Homo sapiens: one gene and its partners. The gene in region 4 interacts genetically with the main gene of each other region. Each region holds a gene or a part of one and is shown on either strand. Other genes may lie near its edges.

Region 1 (3,375 bases), about 27 Mb from region 4:
TCATAGTACTGCTCCAGGTAGGGGTGAGCCAGCGCTTCCTCCACTGTGATCCGTTTATTGGGGTTAAAGGTTAACATCCGGTCCAGCAGGTCAAGGGCTATGGAAGGGCAGGAGTCAGGGGTCACAGGGAAGACTGGAGGAGCTCCGAGAAGCATTGCTTTGCCTGTCTCCTCCAGCGGCTGCTGGGCTCACACACCCTCCACGACACCCAAGGTTTATCCCACACCCACCCTCATGTCTCTCGAACCTTTGGAGTCTGACTTGGGGAAAAGCTTGGCCCAAGCCACCTTGGTCTTGGAGGGCAGAGACTGTAGGTAGTTTCGGGCCTTCATGTTGATGATACAATTCAGGTCCTCCTGGGATGGGGAGCCCAGGATGCCTGTGGATAAGGAGGTGACTTGGTAAATGATCACCTCTTTCTTTCTGGGAACAGAATAGGCAACAAGGCAAGAACAAGACCCCCCAGCCCAGCAACCCATGCCAATCCCTCAGTCACCTCCTAGTCATTAGCATGGTGGTGCAGAGCAAGGGGGCTGGGTTCAGGCAGACCGAGGCTCAAATCCTAGGTCTGGTGCCTCCTCAGGTGTGGGACTTAGCCTTGCTTTTCCCATCTATCCAATGGGGATAATATCTATACCTCATTGAGATACCATGAGATGCTGGAGGCACCCCACACGTGGTGGTATCCCTGACTTGGACTCTCGAGAAATCTCACCTCGGAAAAGCTAATCATCCCCAACTCAGCCAGCCGGGCCTCCCTCACCCAGAATGTGGTTGAGCTGATCCAGGTAGTGCTTGCCAGGGAAGATGGGCCGGTTAGAGAGCATCTCAGCCAGAATGCAGCCCACAGACCAGATGTCGATGGACTTGGTATAGCCCTGGGGGAGAGGAGGAAGTGGTGAGCTCCTGGGCCAGCCTCAACAGGGTCCTGTTGTCTGCGCCAGGCCACCACCTCCAAGTTAGATCCAACACCAGGCAGAAGGCAGAGGCCTGGAGGGCTCAATGCTCAGCTTCCTTGCAGAGCCCAAGGCCCAGAGGGTAGAATTCCTGTGTCATGGGGGTCAGTGTCTGGCTCAGAGGTAGCTCCAGGGCTTCCTGGGAACTGGTCCGTTCCTTTCAGGAGTGGGCAGCCCCTCCTACCTTGGAGTTCAGCATGATCTCTGGGGCCCGGTACCAGCGCGTAGCCACATACTCCGTCAGGAAGCCGGTGTGGTCATGCTCAGGATCGGCAATCCGGGCCAGGCCGAAATCACAAATCTGGAATCAGACCTAGCTGCTAAGCTCGGCGCTCAAGGCCTCTGCAGCCTAAGCAGTCACGCCCCCTTGTCTTTGCCTCCACTGTTCCCTTTGCTTGCAATGTTCTCCTGCCCAAGGCTTCTTCTACTGGTCACTGGAAGCCCCAGACCCTGGGGGAGGAGGGGACAGGTGCCCAACCCTCTGACCTTAAGGTCGCAGGTGGTGTTGATGAGCAGGTTGGAGGGCTTTAGATCTCGGTGGAGCACGTTGGCGGAGTGGATGTACTTGAGGCCCCGCAGGATCTGGTAGAGGAAGTAGCAGATATGGTCATTGCTCAGCTGCTGGCTTTTCAGCAACTTGTACAGGTCAGTCTCCATCAGGTCCTGCACAATGTAGCTGAGGATGGTTCCGCAGACCCCCCCAGGCAGGGGGCAGTGGGAGGCACTTGGTTAAGGAAAACAGGCTCTGAAGGCGAGGCTGCACACCTCCTCCAGCCAGGGCCCCTGGGACTCAATAGATCTGCCAACCTGCACCACCAGCTGGGGAAGCTGCTGCCATTACCCAGCGGCAGGGCTCTGAGCCTCTGTTGCATCACAGTTGCTGATCCTGAGCAAGGGGCTTCATTTCTGAGGCCTCAGTTTCCCTACCGGGGAAACGGGGATAATAATAAACTGTGGGAGGCAGGAGAACTTCACAGTTAAGAGCAGCAACTTGGGCCAGGAGTGGTGGCTCACACCTGTAATCCCAGCACTTTGGGAGGCTGAGGCGGGAGGACTGCTTGAGGCCAGGAGTTTGAGACCACCAGCCTGGGCAACATGGCAAAACCCTGTCTCTACTAAAAATAGCAAAATTAACTGGGCACGGCGGCATGTGCCTGTAATCCCAGCTACTCAGGAGGCTGCAGCACGAGAATCACTTGAACCCAGGAGGCAGATGTTGCAGTGAGCCAAGATTGTGTCACTGCACTGCAGCCCGGATGACAGAGTGAGACTCTGTCTCAAAAATAAATAAATTAAAAAAAAAAAAAAACCTACAAAAAGAGCAGCAACTCTGGAGTTAACCCATGGATGTCTGAAATCTCCTCTCTACTACTCACTGGCTTTAGGATCTCAACCTGTCTGTGCCTCAACTTTCTCATCTGGTATGTAGGGGAAATAATGTTTTTTTGTTTGTTTGTTTGTTTTCTTTTTGTGGAGATGGGCTCTTGCTCTGTTGCCCAGGCAGGTCTTGAACTCATGGGTTCAAGTGTTCCTTCCACCTCGGCCTCCCAAAGTGCTGGAAATTACAGGTGCAAGCCATGAAATAATGGTTCTTTTGAGGGTGGTTGTGAAGACTAGATGAGATGGCGCATGTAAAGCTGTCAGCCCAGTGCTTGGCAAGTTGTGAGTGCTAGGCAAACATGAACTATTATTACTAATATGAATGCCTGAGTCACATGGCTGTTGAGGGAGTTAAATGAGATAATGTATGAACACCATCTGGCATGCAATAAATGTTTGCTTAAAAATAAATGCCTGCCTTATGGGAATGGTTTGTGCAAGAAAAATGAGGAGACACTCCCAACAGCACACTCCCACTCAAAGGAGAGTGCTTGGCCATACCTCAGAAGATGGAGGAGTAAAATGTCTTTTTCTATTTGAAGATACAAAAAAGCTTATGCGTAAATAAATAAATAAATCCACAAATGCTGTTTGGCTTGTCTCTAGAAAAATAAGTCAGGGCTGTCTTTTAGAATCTGCCTTGAGACCAGGCATGGTGGCTCATGCCTGTAATCCCAGCTCTTCAGGAGGCCAAGGTGGGTTGATGACCTGAGGTCAGGAGTTTGACGCCAGCCTGGTGAACAGGGCGAAACCCCGCATCTACTGAAAATACAAAAATTAGCCGGGCGTGGTGGCAGGCGCCTGTAGTCCCAGCTACTTGGAAGGCTGAGGCAGGAGAATAGCTTGAACCTGGGAGGTGGAGGTTGCCGTGAGCTGAGATTGAGCCACTGCACTCTAGCCTGGGCAACAGAGGGAGACTCCATCTAAAAACAAACAAACAAAAAACAAAGAAAACAAGAATCAGCCTTGAAAGGGTCTTCAGAGAATATGTGGACCAGCCCTGCTGTTTTAGGGCTGGGGAGGCCCAGCGAGACGCAGT
Region 2 (3,567 bases), on a different chromosome or scaffold from region 4:
TGTACACTGCTTGTAGTTATAGTGACAGCTTTCCATGTTGAGATTCTCATATCATCTTGTATCTTAAAGTTTCATGTGAGTTTTTACCGTTAGGATGATTAAGATGTATATAGGACAAAATGTTAAGTCTTTCCTCTACCTACATTTGTTTTCTTGGCTAGTAATAGTAGTAGATACTTCTGAAATAAATGTTCTCTCAAGATCCTTAAAACCTCTTGGAAATTATAAAAATATTGGCAAGAAAAGAAGAATAGTTGTTTAAATATTTTTTAAAAAACACTTGAATAAGAATCAGTAGGGTATAAACTAGAAGTTTAAAAATGCTTCATAGAACGTCCAGGGTTTACATTACAAGATTCTCACAACAAACCTATTGTAGAGGTGAGTAAGGCATGTTACTACAGAGGAAAGTTTGAGAGTAAAACTGTAAAAAATTATATTTTTGTTGTACTTTCTAAGAGAAAGAGTATTGTTATGTTCTCCTAACTTCTGTTGATTACTACTTTAAGTGATATTCATTTAAAACATTGCAAATTTATTTTATTTATTTAATTTTCTTTTTGAGATGGAGTCTTGCTTGTCACCCAGGCTGGAGTGCAGTGGAGTGATCTCTGCTCACTGCAACCTCCGCCTTCTGGGTTCAAGCGATTCTCGTGCCTCAGCTTCCTGAGTAGCTGGAATTACAGGCAGGTGCCACCATGCCCGACTAATTTTTTTTTATTTTTAGTAGAGACGGGGTTTCACCATGTTGGCCAGGCTGGTATCAAACTCCTGACCTCAAGAGATCCACTCGCCTTGCCCTCCCAAAGTGCTGGGATTACAGGCTTGAGCCACCACGCCCGGCTAAAACATTGCAAATTTAAATGAGAGTTTTAAAAATTAAATAATGACTGCCCTGTTTCTGTTTTAGTATGTAAATCCTCAGTTCTTCACCTTTGCACTGTCTGCCACTTAGTTTGGTTATATAGTCATTAACTTGAATTTGGTCTGTATAGTCTAGACTTTAAATTTAAAGTTTTCTACAAGGGGAGAAAAGTGTTAAAATTTTTAAAATATGTTTTCCAGGACACTTCACTTCCAAGTCAGGTAGGTAGTTCAATCTAGTTGTTAGCCAAGGACTCAAGGACTGAATTGTTTTAACATAAGGCTTTTCCTGTTCTGGGAGCCGCACTTCATTAAAATTCTTCTAAAACTTGTATGTTTAGAGTTAAGCAAGACTTTTTTTCTTCCTCTCCATGAGTTGTGAAATTTAATGCACAACGCTGATGTGGCTAACAAGTTTATTTTAAGAATTGTTTAGAAATGCTGTTGCTTCAGGTTCTTAAAATCACTCAGCACTCCAACTTCTAATCAAATTTTTGGAGACTTAACAGCATTTGTCTGTGTTTGAACTATAAAAAGCACCGGATCTTTTCCATCTAATTCCGCAAAAATTGATCATTTGCAAAGTCAAAACTATAGCCATATCCAAATCTTTTCCCCCTCCCAAGAGTTCTCAGTGTCTACATGTAGACTATTCCTTTTCTGTATAAAGTTCACTCTAGGATTTCAAGTCACCACTTATTTTACATTTTAGTCATGCAAAGATTCAAGTAGTTTTGCAATAAGTACTTATCTTTATTTGTAATAATTTAGTCTGCTGATCAAAAGCATTGTCTTAATTTTTGAGAACTGGTTTTAGCATTTACAAACTAAATTCCAGTTAATTAATTAATAGCTTTATATTGCCTTTCCTGCTACATTTGGTTTTTTCCCCTGTCCCTTTGATTACGGGCTAAGGTAGGGTAGAGTGGGTGTAGTGAGTGTATATAATGTGATTTGGCCCTGTGTATTATGATATTTTGTTATTTTTGTTGTTATATTATTTACATTTCAGTAGTTGTTTTTTGTGTTTCCATTTTAGTGGATAAAATTTGTATTTTGAACTATGAATGGAGACTACCGCCCCAGCATTAGTTTCACATGATATACCCTTTAAACCCGAATCATTGTTTTATTTCCTGATTACACAGGTGTTGAATGGGGAAAGGGGCTAGTATATCAGTAGGATATACTATGGGATGTATATATATCATTGCTGTTAGAGAAATGAAATAAAATGGGGCTGGGCTCAGTGGCTCACGCCTGTAATCCCAGCACTTTGGGAGGCTGAGGCAGGTGGATCACGAGGTCAGGAGATCGAGACCATCCTGGCTAACACGGTGAAACCCCGTCTCTACTAAAAAACAGAAAATTAGCCGGGCGTGGTGGCGGGCGCCTGTAGTCCCAGCTACTCGGGAGGCTGAGGCAGGAGAATGGTGTGAACCCGGGAGGCAGAGCTTGCAGTGAGCCGAGATCTCGCCACTGCACTCCAGCCTGGGCAACAGAGCAAGACTCTGTCTCAAAAAAAAAAAAAAAAGAAATAAGAAAATGGGAAGCAATATTTGACATAGTTCTTTTTAGTCAAATCTACTTGTTAAAAAAAGGGTAGCAGTTTATTCATCTGTGAAAGGAAAATAATACTTATCTTACAAGGTTGCAAGAGCTCAAGGAGACCATGTATGTAAAGTTCCTGCTGTAAATATGAACTCCCATCCTAATACCCTTTTACCTCTCTGTGGGTTTGTCTTGACCTGGAAATTTGGGCTAAAACTTAGAAAAAATTCTTACATGATAACTCAGTGATGCTTACTCATAGTTTTTGGTGTTTCTCATAGATAAGATATAAATCAGCTGGGCGCGGTGGCTCATGCCTGTAATCCCAGCACTTTGGGAGGCCGAGGCGGGCAGATCACCTGAGGTCGGGAGGTCGAGACCAGCCTGACCAACATGGAGAAACCCCGTCTCTACTAAAAATACAAAATTAGCTGGGCGTGGTGGCTCATGCCTGTAATCCCAGCTACTTGGGAGGCTGAGGCAGGAGAATCGCTTGAACCCAGGAGGCGGAGGTTGTGGTGAGCGAAGATCGTGCCATTGCACTCCAGCCTGGGCAACAAGAGCAAAACTCTGTCTCAAAAAAAAAAAAAGATATAAATCACAATAAATAAATAGGTCAATACAAATGTTAGCCAGGCGTGGTGGCACATGCCCATAGTCGCAGCTACTCTGGAGGCAGAGGCAGGAGGATCACTTGAGCCCATGAATTTGAGGCAGCAGTGAGCTATGATTGTGCCACTGTACTCCAGTCTGGGTGACAGAGTGAGACCCCATCTCTAAATAAATAGGTCAAACCCTTAAAAATATTTAAATTCTTAAAAAATTGAAAAGATTATTCTTCTCAAATTTAGTTGAGCTTTCTAAGAGAAGCAATTGGCTTTTTCCCACTTCAATAATCATTTTCAGTTTGACTCATACAGTTAACACAATGTGAATTTCTTCCTCAGCATAACAGAGTTATAGAATGACAGGGCTGGAAGTGACCTTAGAGAGTATCCAGTTCTTTCATTTTACAGGTGAGGCAACTGAGACTCAAAGGTGATGTAATTTGTGCAAAGATTATAGCTAATTAGTAGCAGAGCCCTGACTGGGACATAGTTTGAAGGTGAAAAACTTCACCAAGCTACCTTTCTTGAAAGGTCCAAATGTTTA
Region 3 (3,567 bases), on a different chromosome or scaffold from region 4:
AGGCCCGAAGCCATCTCTGGCCCTGTGTGCTCCGAGAGGGGCCAGGGCAGCGGCACTCACCGTACTCCTCTCCCCGCAGGATTTCGGGGGCGATGTAATTCGGGGTTCCGCAGAAAGTGCTCGTTGTGTCACCAGGGCCCAGGCCTTCCTGTGGGGGCAAAGTTACTGGGAGAGGGTTCTTGTAGACACTACCCCGCGGGACAGGCGCCCCGAGACGCACATGCGGGATGGTCAGGGGAGGCGGTCCAAGGCACGCACCTTGCACATGCCGTAGTCTGTGAGCTTGATGTGCCCGTCCGCATCCAGGAGGACGTTGTCCAGCTTCAGGTCCCTGTAGATGATCCCCCTCTCGTGCAGGAAGTTGAGGGCGATGCAGATCTCGGCCGCGTAGAACCTGGGGGTGGGGATGCCGTCATGGGGGCAGTGCCTGTGCCAGAGGCTGCGCCAACAGCTCCAGCCTGGGGGCCACACACTCCCGTTTGCCCCACCACGGGCCCGGCATCCTCTCAATGACCAGGCCCAGGATTTGAAAGTGCAGTGCACAGGGCCAGGGAGGGAAATGCCAATGAAAGCTCCAGGACACCACCCCATGCGCCTTAGGATGGCCTGCTGTCAAAGACACAGAGAACGATGTGGCAGCCTCCACAAGGGGAGGAGCGGGCAAATAACACGACAGCTTCCATGCGGGAAAGACCGGAGCCATGGCACGTTGTGGTAGGAGTGCAGAACAGCGCCGCTGCTGCGGAAGACAGTCCGGCAGGTCCTCGAAAATTAAACACGGTGCCAGGCTTGGTGGCTCACACCTGTAATCCCAGCACTTCGGGAGGTCGAGGCAGGCAGATCACCTGAGGTCAGGAATTCAAGACCAGCCTGGGCAACATGGCGAAACTCCGTCTCTACTAAAAATACAAAAAAATTAGCCGGGTATGGTGGCGCACACCTGTAGTCCCAGCTACTCTGGGGGCTGAGGCAGGAGAATCACTTGAACCTGGGAGGCAGAGGCTGCAGTGAGCTGAGATCCCACCACTGCATTCCAGCCTGGGTGACAGAGCGAGACTCCATCAAAAAAAAAAAAAAATTAAATATGACCTTTTTTTTTTTTTTTTTGAGACAGAGTTTCACTCTGTCACCCAGGCTGGAGTGCAATGGCGCGATCTTGGCTCACTGTAAGCTCTGCCCACAGGTTCACGCCATTCTCCTGCCTCAGCCTCCCGAGTAGCTAGGACTACAGGCGCCCGCCACCACACCTGGATAATTTTTTGTATTTTTAGTAGAGACAGGGTTTCACTGTGTTATTTCACCGTGTTAGCCAGGATGGTCTCGATCTCCTGACCTCGTGATCCGCCCGCCTTGGCCTCTCAAAGTGCTGGGATTACAGGCGTGAGCCACCACGCCCGGCCTAAATATGGAATTCTTATGTGGTTAGCAATTCAGTTTCTGGGTGTATACCCCAAAGAACCGGAAGCAGGGTGTTCAAGAGATTACTTCACACCCATGTTCACAGCAGCACTGTTCACCATGGCCAACATGTGGATGCCACTCAAGTGCCCCCCGAGGGATGGACGGATAAGCAAAGTGTGGCCCCTCCATCCAACGGGGCATTATCCAGCCTGAAAAAGGAAGGCAATTCTGAGACAGGCCACAGCACGGATGAATCTTGAGGACGCTATGCTCAGGAAAATGAGCCACCGAAGGACCAACACTGTGATTCCACTCCGATGAGGTCCCTAGAGTCCTCGAATCAGAGGGACAGAAAGTGGGACGTGCCCGTCTGGGGTGAGGATGTGAGGCTGGGGCGGGGGACAGGGAGGGAGTGTCTGATGGGCCAAGCTTCAGCAGGGAAGAGGGGCGTGCTCTGGAGATGAGACGGGGGCCAGCAGTGGCTGCAAAGCATGGGGTGCATTCAACGCCACTGAATTCCATGCCCCAAAATGCTACCTTTTATGTTGTGTGTTGCCACAGTTTTTAAAAACAGCGTTGTGGGAAGTGTACTGTTCTAGATTTATTGCCTACTGTCCTATTGCCAGAAACAATCTAAGGTGACTCACAAAACTGCATGCAACGTTCTTAAGTAAGGAAATGAGGAAAAGGAGAAACTACAAAAGACAGGAAAGGTCCAGGGAGCTGAAATAAGCCCCCAAACGGTCCTGGAGGTCCCGCGGCTGCCGGGGGAGGCTCCTGAACCATGCTGGAGGCCCCTCGGCTGCCAGGGGAGGCCCGAAGATATCAGAGATGAAAGGGAAGGGCAGGAAGGAGTCTCTCAGGTCACTCTAGAAACAGACCACTCTCGTTCTGCTCCTAACGCTGAGGAAATGCTGGCCATGCTGTGCCACTAACAGGGTGAAGAGCAGAACCAGGGCAGAGCCACCATGAAGACAGCACAATCCCAGGAGACTCTCACTTCTCTCGGATGAGGCATGGTGCTGCTTCAGGGGTGGGGCCTGGGGGACTGGTCTGAGGCACCATAACTCAGGAGACCTCCCAAATGTTGTGACTCTGGAGCAAATATGGAATGTGTCACAATGCAGGGGACGTCACACTGTGGGGGACATGATGCCCTCTGCCATCCTACCTGGACTTCCCTCCCTTGAGCTCCCTGCTGACCCCTGGAGAAGGTCCCCGGCCCCCTCCACGTGCACCCCGCCCCCCCCGCCCCCGTCATACCCCCTCCGTGCACACCCCACCCAGCCACCTCCCCTCTGCGCACACCCACCCGGCCCCCCAACTCCGCGCGCACCCACCCGTCATCCCTCTGTGCGCACCCACCCAGCCCCCCAACACCGCACGCACCCACCCATCCCCAACTCCGGGCGCACCCACCCGGCCCCGTCCACGCGCACCCACCTGGCGTGCTCCTCAGGGAGCTTCCTCTGCCTCTGCATGTGGAACATCAGGTCCCCGCCGTTGACGTACTCAATGACCAGGAACAACCTGCAGGGAGAGAGGCGCCGGAGGCTGCAGTCACCTCGGCAGACGGCGGCCTCCTTAGACAGAAGCCCCACAGAAGCGGCCTTCGTGGGCCCGAACCCTCCCGCAGGTTCAGTCTTGCAAAGAGCAAAGAGCAGCAGGAGCACCCTGGCAGCAGAGAGGGGCTGGTGGGGACGGGCTGCGGGGCCGCTCGTGAAGGGTGCAGGTGAGGGAGTCATGCGGGGGCCTCGCCGGCCTTCACTCTTGGCCACTGTGTGTGGACTTGGGAAGTGTGGGTGGGCCCCGGAATGAAGGAGGTGGCCCGTCACCAGGTGGGAGTGGAGGTGGCTTGGACCAGGGCTGGGGGCTGGGACAGGATCTGCTGGGGGCTGGAGCGAGGCAGTTTCTTGCATGGGGACAGCACCGCAGGTCACGGGTGGGGTGGCCTCAAGGCCTGATTTCATTGCTGCAAGGCTGAGGAGTCCACCGGCCCTCCAAGGGAACAAGCTGGGGTCAGGGAGAAGCCAGGTGGGAAGTGGCATCCCGGTTTCGCAGACATGATCGTATGATTTTAAAAGATCCGCAGATGTCATCAGGACCACGCAGGCCCTTCCCGTCTCAGGGACTGGGCCACATGGTTTCTCTTCCTAATAAGATCTT
Region 4 (3,567 bases):
TCCCCATCTCTACAAAAAAATTTTAAAAATTGGCCAGGAGTGGTGGCGCATGCCTGTGGTCCCAGCTACTCAGGTCCCAGGCTGAGGCAGGGAGGCAGGAGAATCGCTGGAGCCCGGGAGGTGGAGGCTGCAGTGACGCATGACCATGTCATTGCACTCCAGCCTGGAGGACAGAATAAGGCCCCGTCTCAAAAAAAGTAAAAAGAAAAAAAAAGAAAAAGAAAATAAAAGAAACTTAAGAGGGCGGTGGGGTGAGGGCAGGAGCCTACAAGGTGCGTGCCATTCTCTTCAGGCAGCCCCAGCCCTGGGAGCATCCCCTCCTCCCAGCTACAGTCTATAGTCAGCGACCCCCACCCGTCTCCCCCTTGCCACCCCCATCTGCTGGGGATGTAGGTCCATGTCCTTGACCCAAGACCTTCCCTCATTCCTGCCCCCATCCCTCCTCAAGCCATATCCCTTACATCCCTTGAGTCCTCCATCCCCCCTCCCCCATCTCCCTGTTCACAGCCTCTGCCCCTCCTCTCCCTACCCTGTACCACCCCCACCCCAGGTCTTCCTCCATCTCCTTGGGAACACAGAGCTCCTCTAGCAGGCACTCTCAGAACACAGCCTGCCGGCCCCAGCACCCGGCCTTGCTCCCAGCCTCTTCCCTCTGTATTCAGCTCAGGCGCTCAGGACTGCCAGGACCCAGAGGATTCACACGCCAGCCCCGGCTGAAGCCCAGCTCCTCATCAACCGGTGAGCCGCCTGCCAGCTCCTGCTCCAGCTGCTGAGAGGCCTGAAGAGACCAAGACAGAGACACAGCCCCGCAGCACCACAGGGAGGCCCCAGTTACCCCATGCGGATGAGTTTCATGGCCATCTCTAACTAAGGTCAGCACTGTTCAGGGCAGGTTCATAGGTAACGACCTGGTGAACTGAAAAGCAAATTTCTCTCGGTCCCTAAAGCCACTCGCTGAGCGTCTAAGCATGAAACGTGAGACCTAAGAGGGGTAGCAAACACGTTTTCGTTCACTTCTCACCAAACCTGTCTCCTATGCCCATTTTACAGAGGAGGAAACTGAGGCACAGAGACTTCAAGGTAGATGGCCAGGTACCCTGGCTCTGCCAGCCTGCCTTTCAGCAGGGGCTTCAATGGTCTTGCTCAAATCACATCCGCACTGACGAATTTCCCTGTCGACTGTAGGTTCTCTTGTTGCTCTGAGTCCTTTTTCTGAGAAACTGGGGGTAGTTTGGTGTTTCAATCAGGGCGATATCTTTCATCTCTCACCTTCTTCCCTGCCTTGTCTCTCCTTGGCCATACTGGGCTTCCGGGCCCTGCACCCCTTCCTGCACCCTTGTCACGCCATGCATCTGGGGGAAGTTACACAACCACAGCTGTGCAGACCCAGCCCCACAAGATTCCCAGAGGGCAGTCCACAGGGGCCCCGGCACCTCCTGTCATCCTTGCTCCAGGCTTTGGCAGGCAGCTCCTGCACGCTCCCCTCAGCCCCATTCCAGGCCCACAGCCCCTCAAGCTTCCACCCAGCCCCAGCCACTAACTCTCAAATGACAAATGTGTTTCCTGTTTCATCAGGACAGGACATCGATGTCATCTGTAACTTCCGGTGCACTGGGGCACACAGCTGCATCTCCCCATGCTCACCTCCTGCCTCTTGCTCTGCCCAGTGTGAGGACTCAGCCTGGATCACCTCCTCCAGGACAAGAACAACCTACCATCATCTGTCCGTCCAATCTACCCACCCATCCATCTCTGCCTCTGGCCATGCATCCGTCCGTCCATCCATCCCCGCCTCTGTGCATGCATCTGTCCATCCATCCCCGCCTCTGTGCATGCATCTGTGCATCCATCCATCCCTGCCTCTGTGCATGCATCTGTCCATCCATCCCCGCCTCTGTGCATGCATCTGTCCATCCATCCCCACCTCTGTGCATGCATCTGTCCGTACATCCATCCCTGCCTCTGTGCATGCATCTGTCCATTCATCCCTGCCTCTGTGCATGCATCTGTCCATCCATCCATCCCCGCCTCTGTGCATGCATCTGTCCATCCATCCCTGCCTCTGTGCATGCATCTGTCCATTCATCCCTGCCTCTGTGCATGCATCTGTCCATCCATCCATCCCTGCCTCTGTGCATGCATCTGTCCATTCATCCCTGCCTCTGTGCATGCATCTGTCCATCCATCCATCCCTGCCTCTGTGCATGCATCTGTCCATTCATCCCTGCCTCTGTGTATGCATCTGTCCATCCATCCATCCCCACCTCTGTGCATGCATCTGTCCATCCATCCCCGCCTCTGTGCATGCATCTGTCCGTCCATCCATCCCTGCCTCTGTGCATGCATCTGTCCGTCCATTCATCCCTGCCTCTGTGCATGCATCTGTCCATTCATCCATCCCTGACTCTGTGCATGCATCTGTCCATCCATCCATCCTTGCCTCTATGCATGCATTTGTCCGTCCATCCATCCCTGCCTCTGTGCATGCATCCATACCTGCCTCTGTGCATGCATCTGTCAGTCTATCAATCCCCGATCCCTTCTTTGTAATGGTGTTGAGCGCTCACAACTCCCTCATCCTAAGACGCTCGTTGGATCCATTCCCTCCCCTCACCCCATGCTGCTCTCTGCCCTCCCTTCCCGGTCAAGTTCTCCAGCCAGTGGTCTCAACTCAATCTTCACTTCCCCCGCTCCTCTCACACCTATCCCCACTGCATTCTAAATTCTTCCCCAACGCGCTGGGCCTACAGGCACTAAAAAGGTCACTTTGTCCCTGGATGACCAAACACAGGCCAATGTAACTTACTGGGCTTGTTTTGCCCCAGCCACAGCTGACCACTTCCTCCTTCACTCTTGTTGTTGATCACCTTTGGGCTTAGTCTTTCTCCATCTCTGTTGAGTCCTTCTCCCCTGCCACCTACTCCTTCATGCTGGGGTTCTCTGTAGCTCTGTACCTGACAGTCACGTTCCACCCTTTCCTCCCAGAAGCTCGCCAACCCCCGTGGACTGCTGGCTCTCAAGGCGGCCGCTAGCCCAGCTCCGACAGCAGCTGACAATGCACAGTATGCGGCCCAGGGCAGGCCCTGTGCTGAGAGGCATGGGTGAATGGCTCATTTCATCGGCAAGCCCACGCCACCAGCAGGCGCCGTTCTCCTCGCATTTCTCAGGCGAGGAACCTGAGACAATGAGGTTAAGGAAGTTGTTCATTACAAGTGGAAGAACCCTGACTTACTTGAATTCAGCTTTGAAGCCCACATTCTCTTTTTCTGTGTGTGTGACAGGGTCTCACTTTGTCACCCAGGCCGCAGTGCAGTGGTGTGAACACAGCTCATTGCAGTCTCAACCTCCCTGACTCAAGCAATCCTCCTGCCTTAGCCTCCTGAGTAGCTGGGACTACAAGCATGTGCCACCACGCCCAGCCGAAGCCCATATGTGAATGTTGAGGCACACAGCCTCCCCAGCCTCTGCCTTACCAAGCCCTCCACAGGGCCTAGGCACCCTCCCTGGCTGCCCCCTTCCCCCGTCACTCAGGCTCCCCAGCAGCCAATGTAGTTAATATGGGGCTGC

Evidence for each region.
Region 1: changes in MMP25 (region 4) and MAPK3 together harm fitness more than expected from each alone (negative genetic interaction), as found in Homo sapiens cells (one large-scale study listed by BioGRID).
Region 2: changes in MMP25 (region 4) and XIAP together harm fitness less than expected from each alone (positive genetic interaction), as found in Homo sapiens cells (one large-scale study listed by BioGRID).
Region 3: changes in MMP25 (region 4) and PRKCZ together harm fitness more than expected from each alone (negative genetic interaction), as found in Homo sapiens cells (one large-scale study listed by BioGRID).

What each region holds. Positions count from the first base shown.
Region 1 is NC_000016.10:30,116,907-30,120,281, forward strand, and holds part of MAPK3 (mitogen-activated protein kinase 3), read right to left. Parts: intron 1,633-3,375; coding exon 1,443-1,632; intron 1,258-1,442; coding exon 1,141-1,257; intron 879-1,140; coding exon 764-878; intron 380-763; coding exon 248-379; intron 98-247; coding exon 1-97.
Region 2 is NC_000023.11:123,908,486-123,912,052, forward strand, and holds part of XIAP (E3 ubiquitin-protein ligase XIAP), read left to right. Parts: 3' UTR 1-3,567.
Region 3 is NC_000001.11:2,168,882-2,172,448, reverse strand, and holds part of PRKCZ (protein kinase C zeta type), read right to left. Parts: exon of another isoform or gene 2,999-3,567; intron 2,956-2,998; coding exon of another isoform or gene 2,932-2,955; coding exon 2,845-2,931; intron 395-2,844; coding exon 259-394; intron 149-258; coding exon 61-148; intron 1-60. UniProt on the Homo sapiens protein: Calcium- and diacylglycerol-independent serine/threonine-protein kinase that functions in phosphatidylinositol 3-kinase (PI3K) pathway and mitogen-activated protein (MAP) kinase cascade, and is involved in NF-kappa-B activation, mitogenic signaling, cell proliferation, cell polarity, inflammatory response and maintenance of long-term potentiation (LTP).
Region 4 is NC_000016.10:3,053,041-3,056,607, reverse strand, and holds part of MMP25 (matrix metalloproteinase-25 preproprotein), read right to left. Parts: exon of another isoform or gene 2,802-3,567; coding exon of another isoform or gene 1,833-2,801; exon of another isoform or gene 1,576-1,832; intron 1,553-1,575; exon of another isoform or gene 1,434-1,552; intron 1,353-1,433; coding exon of another isoform or gene 1,270-1,352; intron 873-1,269; exon of another isoform or gene 779-872; coding exon of another isoform or gene 659-778; intron 1-658. Other genes in the region: sialidase-like, read left to right, coding at 1,833-2,801. UniProt on the Homo sapiens protein: May activate progelatinase A.